2 separate regions of the Homo sapiens genome follow, and region 1 is linked to region 2. The links come from fine-mapping of genetic effects on gene expression. A gene starts in region 2. The other region holds a variant in brackets. All regions are shown on one strand. Distances are between the middles of the regions.

Region 1 (2,909 bases), 770 kb before region 2:
TAATTTAAAAGCCAGCCACAAGGAAAGCCCAGGCCCAGATGGCTTCAAAGATAAATTTAACCAAACACTTAATGAAAAATTAGTACCAATTCTTCACAAATGCTTCCGGAAAACAAAAGAATAGGGCACAATTCTCAGCTCATTCTACGAGACCAACACTACCCTGATACCAAAACCAGACAAATAAATCACATAAAGAAAACTACAGACCAATATCCTTTAGAAATATACAAGCAAGAAACCCTCAGCAAGCTGAATCTAGCCATATATACAAAGGATTACACACCATAAGCAAGTGGAAATTATCCTAGGAATGCAAGATTGGGTCAACTTATGAAAATCAATCAATATAAAATATCACATTAATAGAATAAAGAAAAAACACATCACCAACAAGCACATAAAAAGATGCTTCACATTATTAGTCATCAAGAAAATGCAAATCAAAACTACAATGAGACACAACTTCATATCCATTAAAATGGCTAGAATAAAAAAAGTCACATACTAATAAATGTTGGGGAGGATACATACAAATCAAAACCTTTAGGCATTTTAAGTGGGAATGCAAAATGGCGCAGCACTTGAGAAAACAGTTTGGCAGTTTTGCAAATTGTCAAACACAGACTTGCCATATGATTCAGCAATTTCAATCCTAGGTATTTGCCCAAGGGAAATGAAAACATATGCCCACACAAAAGTGTGTCTACAATGTTAATAGTGTTATTCATATTAACTGTAAGGTGAAGCAACCCACATGTTTAGCAACTGATAAATGGATACACATCATGTGACATATTCATGTAATGATGTAGTATTTAGCAATTAAAAAGAACAACTTGATGATGCATGCGCTTTGGATGAACCTTGAAAACATTATGCTAACTGAAGAAGTCAGATAGAAAAACCACATACTGTCTGATTCCATTTATACTAAAATATCAGAATAGGCAAATCTATAGAGACAGAAAGTAAATTAGTGGTTGCCTAGGATTTAGGAAGGGAGCAAAATGGAGAGTGACTGCTAATAGGTGGAGCATTTTGTTTTTTTAGTTTGTGGTGGTAATTGCACAACTGTGTGAGTATACTACAATCCACTGGATTGTATACCTTAAATGGGTTGATTTTATGGTATGTGAATTTGATATGGTTTGGATCTGTGTCCCCACCAAATCTCATGTTGAGTTGTAATCCCCAACATTGGAGGTGGGGCCTGGTACGCGGTGATGGGATCATAGGGGTGGATTTCTCATGAATGGATTAACACCATCCCCCTTGATACTCTCCTCATGATACTGAGTTCCCTTGAGATCTGGTCGCTTAAAAGTGTGTGACACCTCCCCCCTCACTCTGTCTTGCACCTGCTCCCACCATATGAGACACCTACTTCTTCTTCACCTTCTGCCATGATTGTAAGTTTCCTGAGACCTCCCCAGAAGCCAAGCAGATGCCAGCATCATGTCTCCTGTACAACCTGTGGAGCTATGAGCCAATTAAATTATAAATTATCCAGTCACAGCTATTTCTTTACAGCAATGCAAGAACAGGGTAATACAGAATTATATCTAAATAATTATGTTTTTAAAAACAACCAACTATAATGAGGCACTGAAAAATAAAGAA[A/G]TGGTGCTACAGGCTGAATTGTGCCCTCTGTCCAAAGTCATATGTGGAAGTCCTAACACTAGTTCCACAGAATGTGTCTGTATTTGAAGGTGGGGTCTTTAAAAAGTCAATTAAAGTAAAATTAGGTCATATGGGTGGGCACTAATCCAATATGACTGGTGTCCTTAGAAGAAGAGAAGATTATTTTGAGTTACAACCATCATTCTCAGCAAACTATCGCAAGAACAAAAAACTGAACACCGCATGTTCTCACTCATAGGTGGGAATTGAACGATGAGAACACTTGGACACAGGAAGGGGAACATCACACACTGGGGCCTGTTGTGGGGTTGGGGAAGGGGGGAGGGATAGCATTAGGAGATATACCTAATGTAAATGACGAGTTAATGGGTGCGGCACATCAACATGGCACATGTATACATATGTAACAAACCCGCACGTTGTGCACATGTACCCTAGAACTTAAAGTATCGTTAAAAAAAAAAAAAGATTAAGACACAGACAACACACAGACTGAGAGGTAACCACGTGAGGACACAGCAAGAAGATAGCCATTTGCAAGCCATGGAAAGAAGCCACAGAAGAAGCCAAACCTGCCAATGCCTTGATCTTGAACTTCTAGTCTCCAGAACTGTAAGAAAATAAAATCCTGTTGTTTAAGCTACACCATCTGTGGTTTTGTTAACCCTAGCAAATTACTGCAGATGGAAAACATGAAAGAGAAATAGGAATATGGGGAATAGACCAAAGGGTCTAACATACATCTGAAAAGAGCTCCAGAAGAAGAAAATAGAAAGAGTAGAGAACAAGCAATACATGGATACAAAGAAATATCTGAATTGATCAAAGTAATAAACATTCAGATACAGAAACTGGACAAAGACATTCCAAAAAAGAGAAAATAAAAACTACAGATCAATATCTCTTATGTCAGTAAATGAAAAAAGGCATTTGGCAAAATTTGATATCCATTCCTGCTAAAAGTTCTCACCAAACTAGAAATATATAACTTCTTTAACCTGATAAAAGACAGCTATAAAAAGCATAAAGTTAACATCAGACTTAATGTTACATAAAGACTGAATGCTTTCTCTCTAACTTGGGAAAAAAGCAAAGATATACTGTCTCACCACCTCTACTTAACATTGTACAAAAAGTCCTACCCAGTGCAATGAGTTAAGAAAAAAATAAAATATATACCGGCTGGAAAAGAGGAAATAAAACAATTCCCATTTATAGGTTACTTCACTGGCTATCTAGAAAATTCCATAAATTTTGGATATTTG
Region 2 (2,856 bases):
GTAAGCAGCCAGGGAACGATGGCGAATTTGCAACAATTCGGAAGAAATCAGAGCCGAACCATTGGCCAAACAAGTAACCAAAATCCGTGCAAGTTTGTGGAGCTGAAACAATCCTCCCACACATGGGGCCTTGGCGCCCCTCCGTCCCTGAGACTTCCAGACCAAAAATATGAGAGAGAAACCAGCGTTCGAGTTCGTCCGGAGCGACCACAGAGCGCAGAACGCGGCGGCTTGGGCGCTCGGGGCGGGACTCGGAGCTCAGTCTAGCCCCGCGGCTCGGCAGGCGGCCTGCACTCGAGCTCCATCTCCGGACACGGAGGCGCCTCCTCAAGTCGAGCTGGCAGGCGCGGGAGCAGGCCCCGGCCCCGTCTGAGGCGCGGCACGCTTCTCCCGGGCTGCAGGGCCTCTTACTCCATCCCAGTACAGGGCGCGGAGGCGGCGGCGACGGCAAGGACGACGGTCGGGCAGCGGCTTCCCGGATCTAGTGCAAGACGCCGCGGCGGCGACGAAGGTTGATGTTGCGGCTGGCGGACGCCGCCGCCGCGCTCTCCATATCGGACGCGGGGCCCAGACTGCGCCCTGGCTCTCCGCCCCGTGGGTTGCAGCCCGCAGTTCCCCGAGGTGGCGAGGCGGGCGGGAGTCCTCAACCCGGAGGGGAAGGCCGGGGAGGAAGTGCGCGGGCCGCCGCCGGCGGGCGGGAGGGGGCGGGGGGCAAGCCCGGCCGGGCCGCGGCGGCGCCCCTCGCGCCTCAGTCGCACACTCCGGGGTCACCAGACTCAAGCGCCGCCCCCTCACTGCCCGGCCATTTTTTCGGCGCCACACACACAGACGACTCCTCCGCCGAGCACGACGGCCGCCGCCGCCCTCAGCACTCCCCGGCCGCGGAAGGCAAGCGCTCACACCGCCAGGCCCCGCCGCCGCCCAGCGCACACAGCAAGGCCCCGCCGCAGGCCCCTCCCCCGTGCCTCGCCGCCCTCACCCCGACTCCACGCGCCACTCCAGCTCGGTAGGGCCCGGGCTGCTGCGGCCTTAATGGATCCCGCGGGCTGTGTGGCGCCTCAGGCCTCTGCTGGCGGCGACGACGACCGTTACCCCAACGGGCAAAGCCACTGTCATCCCCGAGACTCCCCCGCCGCCGTCGTCGCTAGCGCTCGCACGCATGCGCAGAGCACACTCTCACCCCTCCCCCCTTTCCTCTCCCTTCGCTTCCCTTTTCCCTTGCTTCTCCTCTAACAACCCCCTCCACAGCCTCCCAGAGCTACCGGCTCACTCCACGCATGCGCAAGCTGCTACCTAGCTCCGCCGCCTTTCGCCCTTCCGCGTGCGCTTTGACCGCCCACCCAGAAAACCGGATAAACACATCAGCCTGCTCGCGCCAGTCCCTCACCGCTGCCAACCCACCCTGGGCTCACTGCGCATGCCTGGCTCTCCACTTCGACTCTCAGAATGGAGCATGCTCTCTGCGAGCCGACAGCTCTCTTCGCCCCTCCCCCACGTGCTCTCAAATTCCCTCTCCCAGGCATGTGGGCTGTGGTGAAACATTCGTTAGCTGGCACATCCTTCCCCAGTGTGGGCTGCAGGCTTCCCGCATTACACTGCTTCTGTGCCCGCCAACGCCGGGGCCCGACTTGGTAGCGCCATGTGGCGCTCTGCACTGGCCTGAACGCGGCCTCTCGTCCTGACTGACCGCGGTGTGAGGAAATAGCCGCGCCAGGCCCCAAGCCCCGCCCTCGCGGCCTTTCTCCTGGAACCGCTCATCCCGACCGCGGAAAGGGCGCAGCCTCGGCTGGCTGGCAGGCTCTCGCCGAGCCGGGAAGGCTGCAGTAGTCAACGTGGCTGCGCGCCCAGCAGGCGTGCGGACGGCTTTTGCCGGGTCGGGGCCGCGTTCCGCACCTCTCTGCGGTGGTTCGCAGTCAGAGGGCTCTAAGGCCCTGGCAGGCTGTATGTAAGCGTGGAGGCTCGAACCCACTGCCCCCTCCTACCCGTCGGACCCGCGCTGTTCCCACGGCCTCTGGCCCTTGGACTCGTGCGGCCTCACCTTCATGGGTGCCGATCAGGACTTCACCGAGCTCTCACCGGAACAGAGTCCTGTTTTAAAAACAAAACGAACTCCTTTTTTTTTTTTTTGAAAGACCTAGCTTTTTTAAAAGACCTAGCTCTTCTGTGTGAACAGATGTCTTGAAGAATGCGTGATCTTGCTCTAGAACAAACCCAAATCCTTGCAAATGTTTTGTTTTTTAAAACAAGCTTTTGCCTTTTGTTTTTGCAGGAGATCAAGGGCACTGGGATATAAATAAACAAAAGCCTGACTTAGTAGATGACTTCCCTCCCATCTCAAAGTACAAAACCTTTTTTTGAGTAGCACAAATAGTAACAGGCCATAGGAAGCATTTCTTATCTCTGTACACACCAAAGCTCCTCAGCATAATTTTTCATGCACAGTAGGTACTCTATACGTTTGCAAAGTGAAAATTATGATGCGTGTAAATCTATTGTGGCACATGTTACATATGTACACAGGCACGTATATGGAACATGTAAATGTGGTACGTGTTAGTTACAAGCTGCCACTTGAGGTGAGTAGGAATAGTTAAGATATCAAGGGAACACATATAATCTCGATTTATAATTTCTATTACCATTTGAAGACAGGTTTTTTTTTCACAAGACCTACCATATTATCAACACTTAAATATTAAGCAGTAAGAATATAACTTCCTAATTTTGATTAGCTGTGCAAACTGTATTTGGTTGTCTTATACGTGGAAAATGACAAATATTCTAAAAGCCACTCTCATTTTTAAAAGCTCTCTTTTTTTTTTTTTTTTTGCATAAGAGATCTTTTCTAAGCTCTCC

Alleles and levels. Positions count from the first base shown, and alleles are read on the strand shown. Sizes are in standard deviations (SD) of each study's normalised expression.
For the expression in regulatory T cells of the gene that starts at base 1,165 in region 2, A is the high allele of the variant in region 1 and G is the other (large effect, 1.2 SD a copy in Schmiedel 2018).

Evidence for each region. PIP is the estimated chance that this variant, and not a neighbour inherited with it, causes the effect.
Region 1: its variant is fine-mapped to the expression of MSL2 in regulatory T cells (Schmiedel 2018, PIP 0.95).

What each region holds. Positions count from the first base shown.
Region 1 is chr3:135,425,948-135,428,856 of GRCh38, forward strand. The region is part of intron 4 of LOC105374122 (a long non-coding RNA gene); the gene reads right to left. Among named protein-coding and RNA genes, the nearest start is that of PPP2R3A, 540 kb to the right of the region's middle. The variant A/G (reference allele first, on the strand shown) is at 1,624.
Region 2 is chr3:136,195,171-136,198,026 of GRCh38, forward strand. MSL2 (MSL complex subunit 2) reads right to left here and starts at 1,165. Exons shown (of 2, transcript NM_018133.4): 1 at 1-1,165. RefSeq lists enhancers at 1-22, 73-122, 122-868, 173-242, 869-1,615 and 2 more and a silencer at 583-972.